Homo sapiens: one gene and its partners. The protein of the gene in region 3 interacts with the protein of the main gene of each other region in a biochemical or structural test. Each region holds a gene or a part of one and is shown on either strand. Other genes may lie near its edges.

Region 1 (4,486 bases), on a different chromosome or scaffold from region 3:
TCCAGGGGATGTACCCTAAACCACATGAATGTGATTTGCACATCCAAGATTTACAGTGTACTATAGGGAGAATCTTTTGCAACAGCTTTTGCTATAATACAGAATCTGAGATGTCTTTGAGAAAGAAAAGTGTAATCATTACCAAAAAATTATTCTCATAATGTGTGCAAATTTGTATGAAATCTATATTGGCCATGGGACAAGGAGGTATTTCCAGCTAGCTTCTGAAAGGGCTCTATTCTCTCATAAGAATTCAGCTGTTGACATTAGGTGATATCTGCCCAGGTCATCAGATGCCATAGAGAAAGAGGGTTTGCTGAAACTTATATCAGCAGTGCACTGTATGCTCTTTCTGATTTATTTGAACATTCATTTATTGAGTGTCAAGTAATGCACTAGATACTCCAGGGATCTGACACAAACTCTGCCCTGAAGGAGCATGTAATCTCACTGGGGAGAAAACAAAACATATGATAATTTCAAAATAACAAACTAGGCAAACTAGTTAACACTTAAAAAGCAGGCTTTATTCAAATGCAAAATTGCATGTTACAGGGTAACCTTTCAGTAAGAAGCCAGGAAGAGGAGCTCATCATGGGTTGGATTAGTAAAGGACTAGTTATAAAAGAAGTGGTGGGGTTGAGGGAGGCCTGAGATGAAATTTAAAGAATATGTAGAATCTAGGTAAGTGGATAAAAGGTCTGGGGGCAGGGGAAAGGAGAGCATTTCATTGTGAATCAAGGAATTTCTCCACCTGTTTTAACTCTTCCATATGACATCAAAGAGATGTCACTTGCAGCTAGCATTTCAGTGATGTTTTCTTACTAATAATATCGTGATAAAAGAAACATTGACTATAAGAAATAGGAATGGGTCTCATAAAAGGAAACAGCAAAACCCCCAAACTAAAAAACAGCGCAGGCTATTTCTCTCTTCTCTCCTTTTGCTTGGCACTCATGAGATGCTAGGTGTGGAAGTCAGCCAACTGAAAAAGAGAGGTGGCTGAAGAAGGTGGGGAGGCTGAAGCCAGTTAAATAGGATGGTCCAATTCACAGACGGCGAGGCTACAGTGCAAATAGGACTCTTTCAACTTGAGCAGGACCCCATTACTTCACTGGAGTTAGAAAGAAAGGAGAGCGTAGACTTTTTGAACTTTCTATAAGAGTGTACCTCCACAGTATACAGAAGACGACGTGAAATTTGATCTGCAAGAAAACTGAGTCCATATTCACATATGTATCAAATTTGCACTTCATTTAGAAGTGTCTGTCATCAAGTACAGCACTGAATTGAAACTGAAAACAAGAGTCAAGAAAGAGCAAAGTCAGCCATCTTTATATTCCACATGAATCCTTTCCCTTTATGGTCTTATTTGTTTCTCCTCAGAAAAGACAAAAAGCTGAGCTGTATAAACACCTGTGGGCTGGGGGTTGAGGGATAAATGAGGGGCGAAATGGAAGCTGAAGGAACTGTTGGTCAGGTAGAAATCTTCCCAGATGCACTGAAGGAAACACACTTCATGTTTGACGTAGGAGGTGCCACCACACAAAACGTTTCATGGAAGGATTTAAAGGATCTCATGATTTTTAGTATTCCAAGAATTTTCTTTCACCAAGGGCGATTTAATATGGGTCATTCATACTGAAAGAAAAACAAAAGATAATAAGAGTTTAAAAATTGCAAAACTTGGAGTGTTAGTAGTAAAGGTAAATATTCATTAGAGATGAGAAGAGGAGCAAGGAAATGCTTTCAGCTGGAAATCTCAGACAAGAGGCCAGGCTTTAGGAACCTCTGAAGATGAACAAATGTAAGCAAACCCTAGTAGCAGCACTTCTCAGATTTTCATGTGCTTACCACTCAGAGATGGTGTTAAAATGCAGACTCTGATTCAGTAGGTCTGAGTGGAGCCTGAGATTCTGCACCCCTAACAAGCTCTTTAGTGATGCTTATGCCACTGGCGCACAGACCCCACTTGGAGAAATTTTTGTGGTGCATACGGTCTTTGTCTCCAGATCTAATGAGTCTGAAGGACAGTGTAGATTGATTTTTTAAATTTATGTTTATTTTAATTTAATTTAATTTAATTTATTTATTTATTTATTTTTGAGATGGAGTCTCACTCTGTTGCCCAGTCCGGAGTGCAGTGGCACGGAGGCAGCTCATGCAACCACGGCCTCCTGGGTTCAAGCGATTCTTCCGCCTCAACTTCCTGAGTAGCTGGGAATACAGGCACGTGCCAGCACACCCAGCTAATTTTTGTATTTTTAGTAGAGATGGGGTTTCACCACATTGGCCAAGCTAATCTCAAACTCCTGACCTCATGATCCACCTGCCACGGCCTCCGAAAGTGCTGGGATTACAGGCGTGAGCCACCGAGCCCAGCTGTAGATTGATTTTGAGCAGTGGAAAGTCAAGGAATTAGAAGGCATGCTTAAATGGAAAGTGAAATTGGAGAAAATTTAAACTCATGAAATAGTGGTGGTTATAAACTCGTGATAAATTATATCCTGGGATATAATTTAATGAGATGGTAACACATTTAGTTTAAAGAAATAAGTGACACTTTTTTTGTGTGACACAACTGTCTTATTCTTGGAAAGGACAAGGAGAGAATGAAATATGGTATGTCTTCACAGCACCTTTCAAAGGGAGAACCAGATTCTGAGGAGCTGGTCTCATGATGAACTGTCAGGGTAAACCACAGTTCAGCAGCTGCAAATGTGCTTGCCAAAATAGAGACAAAAAAATGTTTCTGAAAACAAAATTTCACATATGCCCTCCTCTGAGGTTGGCATCATATCTTCCTGTGTATCTTGGGTGTAGCTTCTATCCTGCCAGAATTTAGACAGTAGAAACCAAATGAGGTGATAAACAGAGTCATTTTGCAGAAGAGTCAAAATAACCCAGCAAGAAATGAAACCACAAATGCCCAAGGAGTCATTCATTCACCATTCAAAAGCTAATAGAAATGAACACAAACTACTATGAAAATTCACCCAAGAACTTAAAAAAAAAAAAAAAGGCTCATGGTGTTTAGTGTGATAGTATTCATTTTACCTTTGACTTGTTCTAAAAACACACCATACTTCTACCCCACCCTTCCTCAGTGCCGTCACACAATGGTTTCAGTGTGAAAAAAAAAACCACGTTACTGGAAAAGGAGGGTGCCTGGGACTTGCCACTCTAAGCTGGTAGTCAAGGGTCTTGAGTTCTAAAAGCATACGCGTTAAGAGCATGATTCCTGGATCCAAATGAGTATGGATCTCAGCATTGCCATTTATTGTGACCTCAGGCTATTTTATTTCTCTGTGCCTGTTTCTTTATCAGTAATGAAGATGTTCATAGACCCTTCTCCCACAGACTTAAAGGCATATTTCATGATTTAAGACATGTAAACCATTCATAACAGTATACAACATGGAATTAATATTTGATAAAGGTTTATGATTATTGTAACTAACTCTGTCACTTGCTCAAGGCCTATAGAAAACTTACTTAATTAGTTCAACTACAAAAAGAGTTTGAATGTGATATCCACCAAGATCATATTCAGACCTAGAATTCTGTGATTCTTATGAATTAATACAGCCTTGGTCAATAAATGAGAGCTGGGCAAATAATTCTTCTTTGCTAGGCCTTTCTAGACCATCTGGTGAAGCATTCAAGACTTATGTTATTGGGGCCAGCCTTCCTTTCCAACTTCAACTCCACAACTCCTCAATAAGCCATGGGCTCAAGAAAGTTCTGCTCAGTGGCCCCTGAAAAATGCTTTCATAGTCTCACTACCATACCACTGCTTACACAATTTCCTTCCTACAGACTGCCTTCCTTTCCTGCTTTTCTCCATATACCTAAATCCTATCTATTCTTCATAAGCAACCTTCTTTATAACATTTTCTATAACCACCAAGCCAAATGACCTTTTCCTTCTTAAATATAGCACCCATTGGCCATTACCATGCTCTGCCTTGTATTTTTCTGATTTTTTTCTTTCTATATTCCTGTCTTAACTCCCCAGCTAGGTAATAATTTTCCTGAAATCAGGGACCAGGCTGACTCCTCTTGCTGTCTCAAGAAAGCTTAGCAGTTTCCAACACAAAAATGTTCAATAAACAACTATTAATTGACTGATTATAAAAAATCAGTGAACCATTAAACTTAATATAGCAATTTGCTTAGCATGGTAATTAGCTTTTTGCTAATATTCTTCCAGCCAGTCTCTCCTCCTGTGCCTCAAGGACATCTTAAAAAAAAAAAATCTAGTTGATCTGCTTCCATCTAGTGGCAATTAAAACAGGTGGTTCCGGTAGCCAGAAAACAGCTCTGGGTAGATTGTGCCAGAAAATACTTTCACTCAGTAGGTGCGAGTTTGAAAGAAATCTTCACATCTGTGGGTTTCCTGCCACAGACATAGGGAGACCAGCCCAGAGAAAGAAGCCTTTCCTCACTAGACTCCATTTGCACTAGTAAAGAGAAGACAGAGTAA
Region 2 (7,032 bases), on a different chromosome or scaffold from region 3:
GCTGGGAGCAGCGAGTGTGATGGCAGGAGGGGCTGGGGGCTTCTTCAAAATGTGTCAGCACACGACGGGCCAGAGCAGAGAGGCAGGTCTCATGCAGCAGGTTCTCACACTTGACCTCGCATGACAAAGGAGGGACTGGACACATCAGGGGAAGCACCCCGGAGAGGGCACTGAGCACGTTACTGCCAAGAGACAGTCACAGCTGCCCTGTGTAGTGGACATTCTCAACCCCATTTCAGAGAGGAGGAAATGGACATCCAGAGAGGTCCAATAACCTGCCATGGGTCACACAGCCTGTAAACCATAAAACAGGCATTTGAATCTTGTTCTCTCTAACACCAATACCCAGTTGGCAAGAAACTGAATGGAGACATCACTTTGCTGCTAGAGGAACTGGGCATGTGGTGCATCCAGAATGCTAGGAAGTTTGGGGGACATACTGCCAGAGCCCAGGGCCCTGAAGGCAAGGGTCAAGTCTTGCTCATCCTTGTGACCCTGAGATCCTTGTTTGGGATCCCACGTGGGGAACAGAGCAATGACAGGAAAGTAGAAGATGACTGGGCATGGTGTGGTCAGTGGAAATCAATAGGCTTTCATGGGGCAGGCTGACCAGTGAGGGTGGATGTTGCCATTGCTGCTAGCATCACAGAGGGGATCCCAGGCAGCACTTTCCCTCCCTCTCCTGACCTCTCTTATCAACTCTTCCTCTTCTAACAATTTCTCTCTTTTCCTGCTCATCAGACTAAGCCCTCAACAGGCAGTCACATTACGGAGTTGGCCACATCCCAGGGACCTGCTGAGCACTTACCTGTCGGTCATCTCCATTCTTGCAAAGGACAAGAACCACTGGGGCGCCAGGGAACAAGGTGATGACTGACAGGCACAGCTCCTCCTGGAGGATCTGCTGGGTGTATGTGAAGGCCCATACCTGGGGAGAAAGAGACCAGGAAGGTTTGTTCAGGATCCAGGAAGCCACCACTCGTGGGATACAACCACACTTACGGGTGTGATTAGCACAGGCTGGTAAGAAGCACCAAGGGTCCCAGTAGGCAATGATCATCAAGGTTACCTTGGAAAATGCTACTCAAGTGCCAGAGACTCGGAGGTCATATCTCCATGGAAATCTCCATCCACCCCATGAAGGGGCCTGGGCCTGGGCCATTCAGGCTGCCTCTGGGAGTCCTGAACAATTCTGGGCTTTGGGCAGGAGTCTGAACAACAACCCCAGCTGAGCTGTGTGCTCCACAGTTTTTGTTTGGAGAAAACATCTCGAGGGGGTCTGTTCCCAGCACTTGACATTTCAAGCAGCCATCTAGCAGGTCAACTCCCCACCCCTCCATACCAGATATCTTTAGACTCTCCCCTGTTCTTTGAAAGGCAGTCCAAGTCAGTGTCCAGAGCACATGAGACTAGAGCACATGAGAGTTATGACAAGAGGCAGATGGAAGGATAAATGGAACAAGTGTTCCAAGGGAATGAATAAAGAAGGGTCTAGGGAAAGAAGAATGTTATGAGGATTCAAATTATTTCAGGAGGGTGCATGTGCCAGGATAATAGATCTTTTGGCCCCTGAGCTCTTTCAGGGAGCGAAGCTGAGAAATTGGATTGACAAGCAGAGTTCTGTTGGCATCAGGAAGAAGGGCATGCTGTGTCATTCATTATGAGGAATGATTCCAACATTTTTCCTCCAAAGTACCAGAGATCACAGAGTAACTGGATTATGAAGCCACAAGCACTTCCCAGTTCTTAAGTCAGTGGGGCAGAAAGTACTGGCATAAGCGTTTTCTCCCCCAGGTTGTAAAATAAGGTAATATTTACCCTTTGCCTCCGTCTGGGGGCAAAGATGATTCCTGAATTGGGTCCCCTGGGGAAGCTGCGGAGGATCCTTTGAGGGCTGTATCTGTTTCCACCACATCCCTGAAACAAGTTGACCCTGAGCCTCTGGACCAGGTTACTCATTGGCTACTTCCCCTTGGCCCAAGAATGAAAAAGTCCACTTAGCAGGCCAGCCTCCTACTCTAGGACAAGGTGTCCCCCAGGCAGACATGGTGGTCATCTGTCTCTCGTTCTCCATCTTCCCTCCTGGTCCCTGGTCCTCTCCTGACCTCCATGGGCTGCTGAAAGCTTTAATTGTTTTCTGGGACCTGGGTGGTTCGGAGGAACCACTCCCACAGGCTCAGGACCTTCTGCTGTCCTGAATACGTCCACCTTGAGTCAACCTGACTTGCTGTACAATGACGCCTGGCTCTCTTGATCTGGGACTCACCGGCCTAGTGGGAGAATGGCTCCTGCATTAGGATTCTTTTATCCCTTTTCAAACTGTTGGTGTTGGGAGAAGACCTAGATCAGAAAGTACTCCCTGGGGAGAGATGCAAATATAGATGAAACAAGACTGTCCTTGAGTCTTGTTCTTAACAGCAGGGCAATGGGTACATGGGCGTTCTTTATACTATTCGACTTCTGTATCTATAGATATTTGAAATTTTCTATAATAAAAAGTCATGAGATACATTCCTTGGGACATATCAAGAAGTTCTTCTCTGGCCTTGTGACCATCACATTCTACACATCCCATTTGCCTTTCTCCAAGATAAGCTGAAAGGGGAAACAAGTCTGTCCGCACAGAGGTGGTGCAATGACCAGGCTGCTGCTGCTGCTGCTGCTAATAAGAGCTGACATTTATTGAGCGCTTATGATGTGCCCAGCATTATCCTGACAACTTTACACAGATTGATTAATTTTCATAAGAATCCTATTAAGTAGGTATTACTATTATCCTCATTTTATAGATGATGAAACCAAGGCTCGGAGAGGCTATCCAAAGTCATACACCAGCAAGTGGCCCCCACACCAACTTTCTCCAGCAGCTCTGCTCTTGTTGATGCTGGAGAGTTAGGGCCGGCTCTGAGCTCTTTTAGATAACCTTAATCCGGGGAGAAGACACCTGCCCCTGAGATTCTTCTTCCAGGTTGTAGACATTAAAACCAAAGATCAGCTCCACCTTGACAGGGGAGAGTGGCAAGAGATTCTTCTTCTTGGCCAGTTCCCAATGACAACCTTTATGAAAAGATGAACAAAGGTTGTACCCCCTTGCCAAGGTCTGGGGTGGGGCAGGCCAGAGAATAGTGCCCTCTCTAATAGAGTAATTCGGCCATGAGTATGAATGGAGGCCCACACTCCTGATTCTACACCAAACCATAGGATACACACAGTGCTGGCTTCTAGCCTGAGCCGCCCCGCCTTTTTCTTCCCCTACCTTGGCTGCATATCCAAGCTGAGTCATTCCCCTCTAAATGGTCTCCCTTGGACCTGGGGATGTGTACTAGAGACACAGTCCACCCTCGGAGGACAAACCCAGGGATGAGACCCACGCAGGGTTTTGAATTAGGCTGGGGCCATTTGGGTGGGGGATTCTGAAGTCCTAAATATCCAGAATGTGATCTAGAAGGTGGGCCTAGAATATTCCTTGGCCTGTGGGGAGGAGAGAGAAGGGCCAAAAGGTCAAATGCAACAGCTGGACTACCAGGAAGCCATATGCCCTGAGATCAGTACAAGGGAAAGACTAAGTTCATTCCTTCTGACCCATTACCTGACTATAGAGTCTGTAGGGAACCACAAATTAGTATTTCAAAAATGAATCCTGCCATTATCTTACAATCACCATCATACAATGACATTGTGTTTTTTGTGTTAAAAGCATTAACTGATTAAATATAAAAGCCTCTTTTGAGAGCCCACTTTGGCATTTCTTCTTTTTTAATATCCTAGGGGTCCCAAAACTGGAAGTGCTGGATGGGTGGGTGGGTGGGCAGTTATTTTGACATCCTCTACCCTTGTTGTCCACAGATGCCTTTCAGGAAGAAATGCATTTGGGCATCTGGTGTGTCCCCAGGCCGGGACTTGATGAAAACATCTCAAAGACCCCCAAGGAGAATGTGTGAACAGGCACAGCTAATGAAGCCCTCATGCTAAGTGGACTTTCCATTAGCTGGTATTTCCTGGCATTTCAATAACTTAGCCTCGTCATGTCCCAGAGGAAGGCTGATGTCTGGCCACATCTGAAAGAGGAGAGGAGGGAGGAGAAGCAGGAAACAGGAGCATACAGGTGGGAAGCAAGGAGAGCATTTTCGGATTTCCATTCTGCAGCCTGTCAGACTTCCCAGAAGGGCCATGATGAATGAGTTTATTAAAAGAATCCTGCAGTCAGAAACAGACTCCAGGAAGGCAGCAGAGGTTGCTCAGCAGGTCTGGCCTGGATTCGCTGAGTGCTGGGCCCTCTGCTGGTGGCTTCGTTTGGGGGCCTGGCAAAAGCCTAGCCCATGATGGAGGTCCTGTGGCAGGCCAGGTCTCCCTAACAGCTGAACAGGCAGGCCTCTAAGACAACTTTCAGCCCTGACTGAGTGGGTAAGTTAAATGTTAAAGGCTGAAAGGGCCAGTGCCCTTTTACAAAAGCTTATATGTAACAAAAGCCCACCAAGAGTTTGTCTAGGCTTTTCCTGGGCCTTGAAGCATGACAAGATAATGAAGGAATTCTTAACAGGACCTGTTTAGGATTAAACAAGTTTTATCAGGGGTCTGAAGAAACTCCCCAGACCTCCACAAACAAGTTTTATTGGGGTCTGAAGGAACTCCCCAAACCTCCATGATTTAGCAGGAGACAAGATAAGAGTAATCACCCCAGCACCTGGACCCATCTAGATTAAGTAAATTTACTGAGGCTCCAGGAGAAGGTCTTCAGGACTCAGACCTTAGTTATAGATTAGAAGAAGTTAATCACTTATGTCTTTAGATGAATGCACACTCACACGTAGACAAACAGCTTAGAAGGTATATAAGCTCTGAAAAACTTTGTAATTTTGAGTTGGTCTGGTGATAATTTCCAGGTTTTCTCTCTGTGCCCGGTTACAGAAATAAACTCTCTTCTTTCCCAGTTCATCTGCATCTCATTATTGGGCCATGAGAATAAGCAGCTCAACCCTCGGTTTGGTCCGGGAACCGTCCCTCCTATCCCAAAGCTGTAGCCATGGAAGGGCAACCCAGAGACTGTCCTTAGTTGGTGTGGGTGACCCTGCCCCCTCCACTGGGATAGGCCAGCTGGGGGCTGAGGAGGAGGGGAGTCACCAATGAATGAGGAGGGGATCGACTGGGTCAGACAGCCTTAAAACCTTCTGTGCTTGGAGGACACGTCTGGAGATGGCCACTGCTGGTGGGAGCAGGGAGGGGACAGGCAGGGGTCAGTAACCTTCTCTAGCAGATGCCAGTCTGGCCATAGCTGTGGAAGCTGGGATGCAGACGGGCCACAGCACCCAGCCTGGGGCTTGTGGTCTTGCACAGGATGGCGAAGCAGGGATGAAAGATTGTCTTAAGAGGTAACTAAAAGAGGGTCAGGCGCGGTGGCTCTTGCCTGTAATCCCAGCACTTTGGGAGGCTGAGATGGGTGGATCACGAGGTCAGGAGTTTGAGACCAGCCTGGCCAATATGGTGAAACCCCATCTCTACCAAATATACAAAAATTAGCCAGGTGTGGTGGCACATGCCTGTAATCCCAGCTACTCAGGAGGCTGAAGAAGGAGAATTGCTGGAGCCTGGGAGACAGAGGTTGCAGTGAGCTGAGATCATGCCATTGCACTCCAGCCTGGGCAAAAGAGTAAGACTCCGTCTCAAAAAAAAAAAAAAAAAAAAAAAAAAAAAGAGGCAGGAGTGAGGACGAGCCTGGGCCCAGGCAGAGGAGCTGCTCTTGGAATGGCCCAGGGCCCCTGCCTCTGGTAGGCAAGAAACAATCAGCCTGGAGCAGCGGCTCTCGACTCTCCCCACTCAGCGGACCTCTGGCAGTGTCTGCAGACATTTTTGGTTCTATGGCTGGGTGAAGGAGTGTTTCTAGCCACCAGTGGGTGGGGTCATGGATGCTGCTAAACATCCCATGCTGCACAGGACAACCCCTCAACAAAGAAGGATCTGGCCCTATTACCAGTAGTGCTGAGGGTTAGAAGCCCTAGTCTCACCTGAAGGGCTTGGGCTCTGCAGGTGGCAGGCCTGTATCTGAACCATGCCCTGGCATTACTCACATACCACCTGGGCAGTCTCTCCAAGCCTCCCTTACCCCATCTGTCAATACTCTCTCCAGGAGGGGTGACACCACCAGGCATGGGCAGGACAGCACTGCTGGTTTTGTTGTAGTTAGACAGCCAAAGTGACAACTGCTTGTAAGAGACTCTTTCAAGGGCCAGGCCTGGTGCTAGTTGCTTCACATTCATTGTCTATTTAATTCTCATAACCACTACGGTTCCCGTTTTGTAGAAGAGGAAACTGAGGATCAAAGGGGCCAATGGTTACTCTGGCAATGCCAGAAGCAGACCCCAGGGTTGATTCTGAACTTGGCCTCTCCTTGGTGAGGTGAGACCTGAGCCAAGTATCCAGGGCCTTGAACATCTTAGTCCATACTGGGTACCTCCACGGTCCCTGAGACATAGCCTTGAAGCTCTCCCTTCAAACAAGGCATCTAGAATGGATGAGCCTGAATTCAAATGAACTGCCCTCGTGATGCCTCTGGCTCTCTGAAGCATCAGCTGCAGTGATTGTACCAACTGTGACAACAGCACAAGTGAGCTGATGGCTGTGCTGGGGTCTGCCTCAGTCCCTCCCTGGTGGAGGCTTTTTCTCCAGAGGCAGCAGGATGACCTGGTGGGCTCCTAGACACACCTCCTTCCATTGGAAACTTTGATGAACCCACTTTTGGGGTCTTTTCTTTATTTCCAGCCCATTCTGTCCTTTCCTCCCATGTGGCAAGATTACACTTATATGTGTGATTAAAGCCCACACTCAGTACATCTTCGCTGGGTCATGTTGTTGGATCCTGGGGTGATACCAGGGCTAGAATCCCCACAGAGCTGCCTATTAACCTGTGAATTTGAGCGAGTTACTCAACTCTGTACCACAGTTCCCTTGCATGTAAAATGAGGATGACATCAGTCTCTAAGAGGGTCACTGCAAGGAACAAATGGGTTAATACCTATCCCAGAGTGGTGCTTTCCA
Region 3 (7,032 bases):
GGTAGTGGTTTTGTAGTTTCTAACATTCAGGGAAAAGTAAATGGTTGATGGCCCATACAATATTCTCTCTTTATCTAAGGACTTTCTTTGCCCTCAGTAGGCTATCTCTGTAGGATCCAAAGAGTTATTTTGAACCCCAGACCTGCATCTGGCTTGTGGGATAGAGGCATTTTGTCTTGTTAATAGGTCTTGTGGTGGTGAATAATTAGATTGAAAGATTAATGATAGTGCTTTAAATCTGAGTAATATAATTTCATGTTGGGATTGGTGCTAAAAGAAAGGTGGTAGTTCTGCACTCATGAATCACATCTTGTAAATGACAGAACACTTTACAACATACAATATACTATTGCTCCACCATGTCGTCAATAATTCTGTTTAGTAGATTCTTCATATATAAAAGAAATCGAGAAATTTTATTTTGGCCAGGAGCTGAAGTTGGTTGTTTAGTAGTAGTAGTTTGAGTAGTGACCGAAGTAGTAGTCTGGTGTGTGGGTGCAGCTGAAGTTTCAGAAGTGTCAGGTGCAAGAGTAGTTGGGGAAGAATTAGGTGTGGTAATTGGGGCAGCTGTGGTCTCTTGTGGAGCTGGGGAAGACGGTGGAGCTGGTGTAGTTGCAGAAGGTGTGGGTGGGGCAGCTGTGGTCTCTGGTGGAGCTGAGGCGGATGATGGGTCTAGGGTAGTTGCAGAAGGTGTGGGTGGGACAGCTGTGGTCTCTGGTGGAGCTGAGGAAGATAGTGGAGCTGGTGTAGTTGCAGAAGGTGTGGGTGGGGCAGCTGTGGTCTCTGGTGGAGCTGAGGAAGATGGTGGAGCTGGTGTAGTTGCAGGAGGTGTGGGTGGGGCAGCTGTGGTCTCTGGTGGAGCTGAGGAAGATGGTGGAGCTTGTGTAGTTGCAGAAGGTGTGGGTGGGGCAGCTGTGGTCTCTGGTGGAGCTGAGGAAGATGGTGGAGCTGGTGTAGTTGCAGAAGGTGTGGGTGGGGCAGCTGTGGTGTCTTGTGGAGCTGGGGAATTCACTGGTGCTAATGTAGCTACAGAAGAGCTTGTGTTAACATTTTCTCTTGAAGATATGGTGGTGGCATTCTGGGGAAGAAAAGTCACATTTGGAAGGGTAGTAATTTTGGTGGAAGCTGATGGGAAAGTCACAGATGGAATTTGGGTTGTAGCCACTAAGGTAGGGTTGACCACACTGCTATTTTTATCTGGATGTTTAGGTGGCTGGTGAGGATTTGGGAATTTGGGGGGGTTATTAGGTGAAGGTGGAAGCTTAGGCCTACAGCGTTTGTGCAGACATTTATAGGACTTTCTAATGAACGGCTTCTGGTGAGCTAGCAGTCCAGGATAATGTGGTAATTCAAAGTGAGATTTGGGTGATTGGTGATGATGCCTTCTGTGACGTAGTTCATGATCCCTTTCTCGACCTTCACTGAACTGCAGAAAAGAAAGAAAATGTAAGAAATGAAAAAAGTATCCATTTATCAATCAGGTGATCACTGCTGACCATGAGATGAGCGGTATTTGTGGAATGCTGGGATTAGAAACCAGAGTACATTATTGAGTCAAGTGATTATCTTCCTAATTTCACCAAGTTTCAAGAAAGAATTGCTACTAGAGAGTTTTCTTTTGTCAAATGTCTACTCTCTAGATAGCTGGGATGAATATATTCCTGTGGGTTCTAGCTTGAATGCTTAGCTGGATACGAACTTTTGTGCTTACAGTTCCTCTCTTCTTCCTCTGGTGGAAAATGGTCAAGTTACTGCCTGAGGTCCCATCACAAAAGCTTCCTGCTTGCTCAGCCTGTTCACAAAACTTTAGTCAAAGACATTCAACTGAGATCCAGGAGCCCTTTCTAGATTACACCCCTCATATCTACCATCATCAAAATACGAAACAGCCAAACAACAACAAAGCCCCAACAAACAAAATATCCCACCCCGGCTTCATGTTCTCCATATTTCAGGAAACAGTTTTTAGCCTTTATAAATTGGAGAAACAACTTTGGTCATTACCTTTTAACTTTATTGTTTAAAAAATTAGAATTATAGAATTCATGATTCGGGGGTTCATGAGTCATCTGATTTTTAGAGAAAATTTGCATGTTTATGCATTTTGTCTGGATAGAGCACCAATGGTTTTCATGATTTCTGAAAGGTGTTTACATCTGAAAAGAACACTGATCCAGTCCAACTGTACATCTGATACTTGATCTTTTATCAATACACCTGCTGAAAGGCTTTCTAGTCTATGCATCTAACCTCTTCTGATTAGGAACTCACTACTGTAATTCCTAAGGCCGCCTGGTAGAGAGTTCTTGACACTGAATGTAGGTTTGTTTTTTGGGATTTTCATTCTTAACTGAGTAGAATTTTCTTCATGAAGATTTCCATCCTTTGGTCCTAATTTTGTTTTGGCAGATTTACAGAAGATCCAGAAGTCTTTCAAAATTTGAAAATAACTTCTATGCCATGTGGGTCATCATTTTGCAAGATATTTTTATTTCCTTTAGCCATTGCTGACATTATTTGAGTTAGAGTACCATCACTGTTTCAGTTTCTTATCTGTAAACATACTTCATGCCTTTTATATCCCTCTTCCCTGTATTCAATCTCATACTACATTTTTTAGTGATCAGTTATATTAAATTGGAGAAAAGAAATATAACAGGATAAATGAGAACATCCCAAACAAGGATAGGTTACGTTTTCTTCCTAATGATGTTCACAGAAGCCCTTTTTAGATGACCAAATGGGTAAATCATTCCAGTCGCAAGTTATAAAGCTTTCTTTGGACACAAAGTTTAGTGCAGATGAAGTGACAACTTCTGAGAGACTAGCTGAGTTGTTTAACTAAGATAACTTCCTCAGAGACTAATATATCCAACCTCAAAAATAGCTTCTAGGTACTGGGCTTTCAGAGGTGAATGAAACAGGGACCATCGTGAGGCTCATGTGATTGAGGGAATGAACCACATAACTATTTCAAAGCAAAGAGGTCATAGAATTAGATTTTGGATCTGGAATTTAATTTAATCCGAATCATTTCATAAATGAATAAACTGAGATCCAGGCATATTAAGTGACTTGCCCAAAGTCATTCAATTATTCAATGCCAGACATAGGACAGACTAAAACCTCCACTGCTGGTCTGTTGCAGTGTGTTTCAAATATGTTCCTCTAAGATCTGGACATTCTCCACAACATCCATCAATACAAGAAAGTATTATTTGTTTAGAAAATTAAATTGTCCAGGAAATTTTAATTCACAACTGAGAACAACCAATAGCTAACATAATGGCTTCTGATACTCACATGACTTTGGTATTTTTCCATAAATCTCTCTTAAAAGGGCATAGGTTTTCAGAATCGGTAACACTGACTCCAGGAATCTCTGAGGAGATCCTTTCCATTACAGGGGTAGTTGTTTTCTCATATAAAATAGAACAGGTCATATTGTTCAAACAGATCTTTCCCTGGAGATTGAATATGCAATCCACATAATTAAGGACCTGCTCTGACTGAAGCAGGATTGAGGGCCTCACATTCCATGATCTCGGTCTTTCCCTTTCCAGATGGTCTCTGAGGATGTTGCAAAGAATGTCCAGATCTTATAGGAACATGTATGAAACATGCTGCAACAGACCAGCAGTGGAGGTTTGGCTCTGTCCTGTGTCTGCCACTGAATAGCTGAGTGACTTTGGTCAAGTCACTTAATGTGCCTGGATGTCGGCTTATTCATTTATAAAATGATTTGGATTAAATTAAATTCCAGATCCAAAGTCTAATTTTATTTGCTTTGAAATAGTTATGTGGTTCATTCCCTTAATCACATGAGCCTCACGAAGGCCCCTCTTTGATTCACCTCTGTAAGTCCAATACCTAAAACTATGCCTGGCATATGGCAGGTACTCATTAGCTATTAATTGAATGAGTAAATGCATGGAAATGATAACAATAACTAATTTGTTATTGAATAAAGTATTAACATTTAAAAGTGTTTATTCATATGTAAAATAGTTTCAGCTATTTTACTTTAGGTGACCAAAATAATACCTACCACATTTTTATATGAAGGCAAATTGATTAAAATCCTATTAATTTTAATGTTAGCTTGGCCTGGAACATGTATCAAATGACCAGTTTGTTTGATTTACTTAATATATTGATTAGTTATTATGATTGGCAGTTACAGGTGGTTATAACAGAAATTGTAGACTAGAGTTGGATTTAGAGAAGTCTGAGAGAGGAAGGAGTTGAAAATGCATGCCTCTAAAGTTTGAGTTTAGGTGACTGAAGTATGGAGGTCCTTATAATAAATATAGATATGCCAGGGAGGGTGTATTAAAGATAGCAACCCTGCCTGCCTGTTCACATTCATTATTTATTTTTATTAAAAAAGTCTTCATGTAACACTTTATGTTAGGCCCTATTCTGAGTGGTTTACAAATACAAATTTATTTAATTTCTTAGTAATATCATAAGGTGGGTACGGTTATTATCTTCATTATATGGATGGGAAAACTGAGTCTCAGACTAAGTAACTTTTAGGAGAATGTTTCTCCATTTGCAAACTGTACTTTTGAGAGCAGAGAAGAGGGAGAAGACATGAGGAACAAGGATAGAGTAGGCTGGAGTCAAGGGAAGGAGAAGGAGAGACACATGGCACTTGCAGCAAGAAAGGAGGGTATGAGAAAGCAGAAGACTCCTAAAATAACTAGAGGAATGCCAAATTCTCTGAGGAAGGAAGAGGAGGAGAAAATTAGTCAGAAAGGGAGAGAATTAGAAGACAGAAAGGCCAAGATTACATTTTTTACTTTTGTATTTTGAGACAGAGTCTCACTCTGTCACCCAGTTGGAGTGCAGTGGCATGATCTCAGCTCACTGCAACCTACGTCTCCTGGGTTCAAGGGATTCTCCTGCCTCAGCCTCCCTAGAAGCTGGAATTACAGGTGTGTACTGCATGCCTGGCTAATTTTTGTATTCTTAGTAGAGATGGGGGTTTCACCATGTTGGCCAGGCTGGTCTTGAACTCCTGACCTCAGGTGATCTTCCCGCCGCGGCCTCTGAAAGTGCTGGAATTACAGGTGTGAGCCACGGCACCCGGCCCAAGATTACATTTAATTGAAATTAGAAAGCACAATTCATTTCTTCATTTGCTACCAGCTTATTTTTATGACCATTTGAAAATCTGTGATCCTTTTTTAAAGAGAATGAAAGCATTATGCTAAATAATGCTATAGTTGACAGAGCTCTTCATCTGACTCCAGAATACATCCCTTCAAGTCTTTCTTTGGGACATCTGGAAGAGAGAAGCCAGACTATCTGCTCCCTGAAATCACTCCACAAAAGCAGGTTGTTGCTAGAGCTCCAGGACTGACCTTTTCTGGCTGTGGGTTAATGCTAATCTCCGGTACATTCCTGTATTTTCTTTTCTTTTTATTTTTTTTGAGACGGAGTCTCGCTCTGTCACCCAGGCTGAAGTGCAGTGGCACGATCTTGGCTCACTGCAACCTCTGCCTCCCAAGTTCAAGTGATTCTCCTCCATCAGCCTCCCAAGTAGCTGCAATTACAGGTGTGGGCCACCACGCCCAGCTAATTTTTGTATTTTTAGTAGAGACGATGTTTCACCATGTTGGCCAGGCTGGTCTCGAACTCCTGACCTCACATTCCTGTATTTTCTAAGGATCAGGTCAAGGTATTTCTGTGCTACCTTCTCATATTCAAGTTCTTTGGAAACTCTTTCTCTCACCAGGCACTTTTTTGAGATTTGGGCAGCTTGAAGAGTTTTATTTATTCTAAGCACTTGGAAGAAAGGATTCTTTAGGTGTCTGGATTTGAGGGAGTTATGATGAAAGGCCACTTCAAAAGAACAACCCAGATTCATCATTTCACAATAACATGACTTGTGTTGATTGGAAAATTATTTCTTTCAATATAGAGGTGTTGGTAGCCAGGGATTCCTTATTAAAACTTTACTTATTAAAAAGTTAACATCACTGTGCATATTCAGAACTTAAAGCCTTATCAACTAGTATGTAAATTGAGATTACAATAATCTTGTCATAATTTTTATATCTACACTATAGTTTATAATTTATAAATTCTCATTTACCCTTCAGCAGCCCTGTGAAGCATATAGTGTTGTTATTATTTTACACATAGGGAAATTGGGGCCCTATAAATAGATTCTAAATTGCTCAAGATTCATCTGGATGGTAAACATTAGAGATGAGTTTAAGCCCACATCTTCTGAGCCCAGCTTGAACACTCTTCTAGTCACAGAAATCAGCATTAGGGTCCGGGAAAAAGCCTGATTGTTTTCTGGGGGATATTATAAGGTAAGTGAGAAATATGAGAATATCCAAGAGTAAATTCCGTCCACTTCATCAGTTCTTCTGCCCTCTCTCTCTCTACTCTACTGGCGTAATATTCTGAGGCTATCCATCCTCATTCAATAAAAAAGTACATTCCACTTCTTGATTCTTATTTGAAATTTTGTCAAAATAAAATTTAATAAATACTTGCAGGTACATAGCATGAGAGAAAAATATGGTTATTATTACAGCATGTATCACCTTGTAATCACATTATATCATTATTAATTTTAATCTTCCTTTGCCAGTACACCCTAAATTTCTTAAAGATAGAAGGTCCACTTTGTAGTCTTCTCTTGGTTTTGGAAGCCATCCTTTCCTGTCCCCTCTTGTGGGTCCTCCATTTTCTCTATCCATATCTAAACTTCCTACATTTTCTCCCTAGGTGAAAATGTTGTAAGGTTTCATGGCTTCAAGTATGTTTTAAATATAGACTTTACCCCTAGATTTCTTTCTGAACTCCAGACAACATATATCCACTGTTTTCTTGATATCTTGATGTGGAAGTCTAATAGCCATTTCAAATGTAACATGCCCCAAACTAGAACGTTTTTGTTCATTTCTTTCTTTTTTTTTCTTTTGAGACAAAATCTTGCTCTGTCACCCAGGCTGTAGTGCAGTGATGCAATCTCGGCTCACTGCAAACTCTGCCTCCCAGGTTCGAGCA
Region 4 (7,891 bases), on a different chromosome or scaffold from region 3:
TGGGGTAGAATGTTCAGCCTCTGCTGTCTCCTGTTTCTGAGCCATCCCCTTATGGCGAGAGCCACCCATGGCCCTTGGGTGGGCAAGAGGCCTGTAGCTCCCTGGCTGAGTCTGCAGAGGTTTGGGGACACCTAGCTGCCATACTCCCCCTTCATCCACCCTCATCCCGGGGAAATCCCAGGGAATATAATCTTGCCTTGGAAGCCTTTATAGAACTATCCCACACTGAGAATTAACCCAATCAGATGCAGCCATTTGTGACCCAGTGAGCATTAACTGGATGCCTGCTGTACAAACAGCACTGTGTGTCACGCAAGGAATGTGTAAGCGGACAGGACCAGATTTCACTTCTCACTGGAGAGGCAAAAATCCAAAAAGAGGAAGCTAAGAATGGTGGATGTGTTAAAAGAGAACAAATACCAAACAAATACCAGCTAATGGAGACATACGTGTCTCCATTAGTTGCCACAGCTCCTCTGTATTGTGAATTCTGCCAACCTCTCCATTCTCCAGGGGAGGGAGCTATGGCTTTAACTAGTTATGTGGCTTGTGGAAGTTCCCATAGCTAATAAGTAAGTGTTGGATCTAGGACTCCAACCTAAGCAGTCAGGCACTAAACTCCCCTACTCTTACCACTGGGCTAGCCTGCCTATTTAGGTTGGCAAAGTTAGAGACAGGTTGGAGATGGGGCTAGAAAAGGGTCTGGGTCAGATCCTGGAAAGTCTCCAATGCTGATCCAGGGAGGTCTTATTCAGGATGCAGTGAAGCTGTGACTCACGGGAGACTCTCCCTAGGGCAGGGGCAGAGTGAACTGAGACCTGGGAACAGGCAGAGAAGCTGTGGCCAACGAAGGCACCAGGGAAGGGCTAGTCTGAGTGGAGAGAGGGGACAGCACTGAGAACAGAGAAGGGGGCAGGGAGCTGGTATCAGAAATCAGCTTGGTAATGGGTGGGTTCTGGGGGTGAAGGGAGAGAGTAAAATGGAAGACCATGCCTCAAGCCGGAGGTGGGGGCTGAGCAATGACGGGAACCTGTGGGCAGAGTTCATTTCTTCCCCTAAGAGGAGCTGAACCAGAGTGACTAAAGGACCGCTGAGCTCCCTTCCAGGATTCCCAGTCCCCAGCCCCCCAAACACCAGGTGAAGTCTCCACGCTCTTACCTCCCAGCTCTGGAGCTGTGTGACCCACAAGCTCTTACCTCCCAGCTCTGGAGCTATGTGACCCCCTGAAGCAGGTCTAGGTCTGGCCCCTCCAAAATCTTCAACCCCACACTTGTATTCAGTGTCAGGCACTCAGATGCTGCCCACTGGACCTGGCTGGACACTGGCCAAAACACACATTCTGGGCAGACATGCAGTGCGCTGGCCTCCAAGGCAGGGGCCAGGACAGGAGTTACTCTCCCCACCTACCCACACAGCTCATGATAGGGCCCAAGCAGACTGCTCAGACTGATGGGAAACCTCATGAGTGCCTCCCAGCCCATGGCTCCAGGGCTAAGCAGACAGACTCCTCCACCCAATGCTCACACGGCTTAGATCCAGCTGGCCCCACTCACCCAACTTCTGTCAGCCTGGACACCCACGGGGAGCAGGGCAGGAATTCCACAGGGCAACTGCCACCCTTTCCTCAGGAAGGACAAGGGTTGCAATGGCACTTTGGGGTACAAGCCACCATCCCAATTGACTGCAGGATTCAAACTTCAGACCTCAGTAGGCGCCAAAACAACTAAAGATCCAAGTGAATATAAAACCCAGTGGTGCAACTCTGAGCCAGAATCCTGGACCACAGCCCATGACCACTTCCAGGAAGGCAAGGCTTCCTTCCTCTCCTGCCCCTCCCAGGTGGCCCTAACCCTGTGCAACAGGCCACTCGCCAGGGAGCTTGAGGGGAAGAGAACAGTCGGGTCCTGGCCAGTCCCAATCTGTCTTAGAGAAGAGAAGGATGACCAACACCCATGGGAAGGAATTTGGAGCAGGAGACCAGAAGGGCAGGGACAAGGATGGGTTTGGGCTCCCACTGCTGCTCTCTATCCACCGCCACCTCTTCCATCCAGGAAGCTCCCAGCCTTAGGTAGATGCCGTAAGACAAGTGGAGGCTGCACTGGGCTGGGGAGGTGTGACACCTGGGCTTTCACTGTGCCCCTCCCACTGCCTAGGTCCTGATGCCCATCACAGCCCTTTCTGCTGCGGCCTGGGACCTTCCCCTCCCGGTGCTGCAGGGAGCTCCGCACTCACGCATTTAGGTCACTAATGTGCAGCGCTGGGGAGTGCCCTCTGAGCACCCGAGAAATTACTTTGGTTATGGAACTGACAATTGTTTCCTTCCTTCTACTCCTTCCTTCTGTTTGGCTGACATTTCCCTCTCAAACCCTCTGACACAGGGTTCCATCAGGAGCACCGCACCCCTCCACAACCCTCTGCCACGGAAGGTGTGCGAATGCCCCATCTCCTCCTCACAACCCTGTGGACCCATGGTTAGGCCGTTTCTTTAAGTGAAGAAACTAAGTCTCATAAAGGCTCGGTCTTGCTGGGGTCTCACAGTCCTCGCAGGAGCTAGGATCTGGACTAGGGTCCTTGAGCTAGTCGCTCACCCTCTCTGAGCCTCACTTTCCTCCCAGGTAAAACGCATGTCACAATACAATGGGGACCAAATCCTTAGGCGGGACACAAAGGGACAGGGGCCTGGGAGGCCTTTTGAGAAGCTCTGAGCAGAGCTAGGCGTGCCCCGATCCGGCTTGAGGAGCCCAGCTCCTGTTCCTCCCCATGTGGGAAAGAGACTGGCCCCGCGTCCGGGCCGCCTCCCGGCTGTAGGCGCTGGGACCGCGGGGCGCAGAGACCCCGCGCCCAGCCAACCGGACACAGGGACCAAAGCGCCTAGCAGACAGGGCGCAGGAGACGCCCATCAGGCGGCTCGCGCCCCCAGGCACCTGCACTCACCGAGGGCCCCGAGGAACAGCAGGACGAGGAAGACAAGTTTCATGTCTGCGGTCTGGAGGCGACTTGGCAAACGAAGGCTCTGCCACTTGCGCCTGCCCTGCGCCCCTTTATTCAGGGCTTTGCCCCGCCCTGTTGCCCAATAGACACCCCTTCCCTCCCCACTCCCCGCGGCCAGGTCTACTTGTTCCTTGAGGATCCAGGCTCCGAAAAGCCCTGAGGCAGGACAGGACTCCACACCGCGCTGCGAGAGGAAAGCCAGCCTGCACCTCACCTGTCCTGGTTCTGCCTGGCTGCTGCGATGTTCTTTCTCTCCCACTAGTCTGCAAGCCCCTAGGAGTCGCAGCCCCCTGAGCCCTGTCCCAGCTCTGGTCTCAGTGCCTTCTAGAGGGCAGGACACAGAGCAGAGGGTCTTTACTTGAAGATCGCCTTGACCTGTGAGACTGCTATCTTCTTCAGCAGATGACCTTGAAGGTGCCTAGGAGCCAGTTAGGGCAGGTGGATTTGCTTTCACCTTGGCTCAGCAGTGAGCTGAGAGTTGAAAAGATGACCCGACCACCCCCAGCAGCAGCCTAGGGACAGCTGACAGAGAAAAGAGAGGCTGCCCAGAGTCTCAGGCAAGCTGCCCATGGGGTATCTCCCTGCCCTGCTGAGACCCACAATACAGCTCCCAGAAAACAGACAGGGACCTCAGAGGGGAATGGCCACCACCCAAGGCTGGTTCCATGTTCTTATTTGCCAATGAGAAAGATGCCCTATGGCTAAGATGCCCTACCACTTTTTTTTTTTTTTGTCTTTTTTTTCTCCATCTCCTCCTTCTTCTTTTTTGGTGTTGATAGTATTCAGTAGGAAATGGTAACCTCATTTTAACAATCGCCATAAATGTCAGATTTTAAAATTCAAAAGCTAGAATACTGCTTCTAAGAATACATCTCGTAAATACATTCCCATGACACACAGCACCCCAGGTACAAATGTTTCCAGGCACCACTGCATGCCATTAATCAGTTGGAAGCAAACTAAACATCCATCTCTAGGGGAGTGTCACATACAGCATGGTGCCTGTGGGACACATTGGGGGCCTCAGAAAGAATATCCTGTGTGTATGGATGTGAACTTAGCCCAAGAGTAACTAGGCAGGGCACAGTGGCTCATGCCTGTAATCCCAGCACTTTGGGAGGCCAAGATGGGAGGATCGCTTGAGCCCAGGAGTTCAAGACTAGCCTGGGCAACATAGGGAAACCCCCATCTCTACAAAAAATACAAAAATTAGCCCAGCATGGTGGTGTATGCCTATGGTCCCAGCTACTTGGGAGGCTAAAGTGGGAGGACCATTTGAGCCTGGGAGATGAAGGTGGCAGTGAGCCATGATCATGTCACTGCACTGCAGCCTGGGCAATAGAGTAAGACTCTGTAACCCCCACCAAAAAAAAAAAGGGTAACTAAGTGAAGAAAAAAGGTACTAACAGTGAGGGAAATAATAGGTCACCTGAACACCTTTCTTGGCAGGTGAGTCTGACCAATATGTGACTCTGAAATCTGCTTATTCTGAAAAGCTGGTCTTGACTCTGCTTAGACTACTTGGTACTAAAAAGCATTTCCTGGAGCAGATAGGCAATGCCCCAGGGAGCCAGCTCTGCCAAGAGTGAGCATGCAGTGGGCACCTAGCCATGGAGAAGCAGGCTCAGCCCAAGGTGGAGAGGCCATTAAGGAGGCTGGGGAGCCCCTCCATTTCTGGGCATGATCCTGCCAAGGCACAGGGTGGAGGCTAATCAGGGATCATGCTTGCCTGCCATGAGACTGGGGTCTGAGATTTGGTGCTAGAATCACCAGCTGGGTTTTGGGGTGACAGATCCAAGGTCTCTCATTGTTTGGAAACATGATATTGCACCATTTAAAGTTGCCATCATCAATAATTGCAATAAGTTCTTTCAAAAATACTGAAGAAATACAAAATTGACTAATTCCCAGGAGTGCTGAAGCATCTTTGTACCTAAATTGGCAACAAGACTTTGCCTTTTCATCATTATAAAAGAATTAAGAAACATCATAACCCGTGTCTCTTTTTCTGAGTCCAAATTTTAAAAAAGGATGACTGGGAGGTCAGAGGGCCCTGGGCCCTCTTAAGTATGTTACAGTGTTGGCAAGAACACAGAGAACCTGGGGCCACTACCAAGAGGCTCAGCTTAAGGAGTGCCCTGAAGGCAGCATGGGTAGGCAACAGGGCAGACTGTTTTCCTGCTGTGCCTGTTGGAACAGCCCAGCCCCAGGGCAGGGATGTGAGCATCTGGACACAGGCAGAGCAGCCCCTCAAGGCCATTTGCAGAGGAGGCTGATGTAGGGGATGAGTCTGCCCCAAAAAACAATGAAGTTTCACTGATCTATTAACAGCATTCATTCATTCATTCATTCATTCATTCATGCCAGAACTGGTAGATGCCATGAGAGACAGAGAAGAGGGGTCTGTCCTTGCCCTCAGGAGCTCACAGCACTATGGGGGAGGGACAGTCACAGGAATGCACTTCTATCACAGAGGCTCCCTAAGAAGAGGCCAAGCAGCATAAAGCAAGTGAGTGTGAGGGCCCAGAGGAGGAATGACCAGCACCCATCATGAGGGCTCCAGAAGAACTCCAGGAAGATTTAGCCTGGGTACCTGAAGGAAGGGTGGGATTTCTACAGGTAGAGCATTCTGTAAAGTAAACAACCAAACAAGTAAAGGCTTGGGAGCATGAACCCAGTGACCAATTACCTGAGCACTAGGGACAACAAAAGTTCCCTCTGGCTTTCTGGCCAGGAATTCTTTTTTTCTTTTCTTTTCTTTTCTTTTTTTTTTTTTTTTTTTTACCGACAGGGTCTCCCTCTGTCACCTAGGCTGGTATGCAGTGGTGGTGCAATCACAGCTCACTGCAGCCTTGACCTCCTGGGCCCAAGCGATCCTCCCACCTTGGCCTCCCAAAGTGCTGGAATTACAGGCATAAACCATTGCACCCAGCCATGGCTTGGAACTCTTGTTGGAAGAAGGATTAACAAAATCCTCCTCCTCTATCCTGAGCTCCACATCATGTGTTCATCTGCCTCTGGAAAGGTACTCTTGCAGGTCCTGAAGGCGCCTAAATTTAATGCATCGAAAATGCAACTCACCCAGTCCCTCCAACCCTGAACCTTTTCTCATATTTCCTACCGCTTTCCACCAAACCCACCAAAGAGCCGCAGAGGCACCCTCAAATCCTTTGGCCAGTTAGCTCTGTGCATGTTATAGGCACTTGATGATCAATATCGGTTGAAGGAATGAATAAATGAGGAAGAGGAACAGGCTAAGAAAGGGACAAAGGATCCTGTTTGTAATGTGTTGGGTCTGAAGGATAGTGAGGGTCAGGGCTGCCTAAGCCAGGCCATGCCAAAGCCTGTGTACATGGACTCATTAACTTACCCATTCATTCAACACTGGTCTATGGGACATCTCCAACGTGCCAGGAGTTGGGTCAGATCTCAAAGAGCCTGCAGGGAAGCAGAATGCAGGTTTCCAAATGCTGAGACAGTAACATGAGTTTAAGGAGCACAAAGAAGGTAGCTGCTGTGGAAACTGCCATGCAGTGGCAAGAGCTAGTGTTCAACAGGCAGATGTGTGAGGCTGACTCCCTTCCCCCTAACCCTGCTCTGCCCCCACCCTCAAAACTCCTCCAGGGAGCCTTTACAGAATTGCAGGCCCAAGCCCCATTAGCAGGCAACAGTCTCTGGCCAACCTAAGTCCTCCCTGCAAGCCAGTAAACCTCACACCCTGCCCTCTATGAGCCTCTAGCTTCAAACCCCAAGAAGAGTGTTGGGAAGGAAGTGTGAGATCTGAGTAGAACTGGCTTCAGGTGGGATAAGGCAGAAAAGGCCTTCCTGAGACATCAACTCACGCTTGGACAATAGCTTGGCAGATGGGAGACCTTGGGCCCTGTATCTTTTCCCTGCCAGTGGTGAGAGATTGCTGACTTGAGAACCACTTGTTAAACATTTAGGGATTTGGGGTGGGTTAACTGATGGCAGCTTGATATCAGGCATAGTCGATGTATTTATGCCATGGAATTAGCAAATGCTCTAAATCAGGGCTTCCTCCTTCCACACCCCCAGAGGGCCAGTTGACCAGCACACAGCTGCCTACGTTCATCATTGGTGGCATGCAGTGTCCACATTAGTGTGGGTGTGTTTGTGTATGGGTGGCTGTGCCATCCCTAGCAGAGAAATAGGATAATAATCTTTAATATTTGGATGACATTTTAAAATCCAAATAGTGCTGTCAGTGACTTTGTTTCACATGGCTTTAACAACGACTCTGTGAGTTAAGACAGTCACTCTTTCCATTCTAAAAACAGGTACTCTGAGTGTCGCCTGAGGTCACACAGTGAGTGAGATACAACTGCTATCCCTGAGTCTCCCATTAGGCCCACAGCCAGGGGCTTTCTCCTCCATGAGCCAAGAACCCTCTGAGAGCTCAGGGTGCAGGGACTGAGGCCCAGGGATCTCAGCACAAAGGGAACCTGGCAAGAATTGAACCTTCCGTGAAGCAGGCCCTGCCTGGCCCCTTCCACACATCAGCTGGCTTCTGATGCTCTGGAAATACCAAAAGGTGCTTGTTATACCTGTTTCCAGCTGAGTGGACTTGGGCAATGCACCCTGTTCATGGTCTCACAGCCAGTGGACAGTAGAGCTAGAAATCCACCCGGGACCCCATCCAGTGACTTCTTAGGGCCTTGGTGTCTTAGTATTGATCATTTATTTGCTGATCACCCTGAAGAGAGGGGCAGAGAATGGGGGAGAAGGAGAAAGAGATGGATGGAGAGCTGCCTGTGTCTCTACCCACCCAAGTCCCCCCAAGATCCCAACACAGACAATGACCTTGAGAGAAAGGCCCTCACATTTGGCCCCACATTGGCCCTTTTGAAGACAGCCAAAGGCCCTAAGAGTCTGGGAACGT

What was found.
Region 1: the proteins of MUC7 (region 3) and SELL form a complex in vitro, tested with the Homo sapiens proteins (one study listed by BioGRID).
Region 2: of the proteins of MUC7 (region 3) and GALNT14, one has a biochemical effect on the other in vitro, tested with the Homo sapiens proteins (one study listed by BioGRID).
Region 4: the proteins of MUC7 (region 3) and LTF interact in far-western blotting, tested with the Homo sapiens proteins (one study listed by BioGRID).

The regions. Positions count from the first base shown.
Region 1 is NC_000001.11:169,690,162-169,694,647, forward strand, and holds the end of SELL (L-selectin precursor), read right to left. Parts: intron 1,642-4,486; coding exon 1,623-1,641; 3' UTR 506-1,622; downstream 1-505. UniProt on the Homo sapiens protein: Calcium-dependent lectin that mediates cell adhesion by binding to glycoproteins on neighboring cells. Mediates the adherence of lymphocytes to endothelial cells of high endothelial venules in peripheral lymph nodes.
Region 2 is NC_000002.12:30,911,415-30,918,446, forward strand, and holds part of GALNT14 (polypeptide N-acetylgalactosaminyltransferase 14), read right to left. Parts: intron 929-7,032; coding exon 809-928; intron 1-808. UniProt on the Homo sapiens protein: Catalyzes the initial reaction in O-linked oligosaccharide biosynthesis, the transfer of an N-acetyl-D-galactosamine residue to a serine or threonine residue on the protein receptor.
Region 3 is NC_000004.12:70,475,193-70,482,224, reverse strand, and holds part of MUC7 (mucin-7 precursor), read right to left. Parts: intron 1,427-7,032; coding exon 347-1,426; 3' UTR 1-346. UniProt on the Homo sapiens protein: May function in a protective capacity by promoting the clearance of bacteria in the oral cavity and aiding in mastication, speech, and swallowing. Binds P.aeruginosa pili.
Region 4 is NC_000003.12:46,461,891-46,469,781, forward strand, and holds the start of LTF (lactotransferrin isoform 1 preproprotein), read right to left. Parts: upstream 3,016-7,891; 5' UTR 2,978-3,015; coding exon 2,935-2,977; intron 1,765-2,934; exon of another isoform or gene 1,554-1,764; intron 1-1,553. UniProt on the Homo sapiens protein: Transferrins are iron binding transport proteins which can bind two Fe(3+) ions in association with the binding of an anion, usually bicarbonate. Lactoferricin binds to the bacterial surface and is crucial for the bactericidal functions.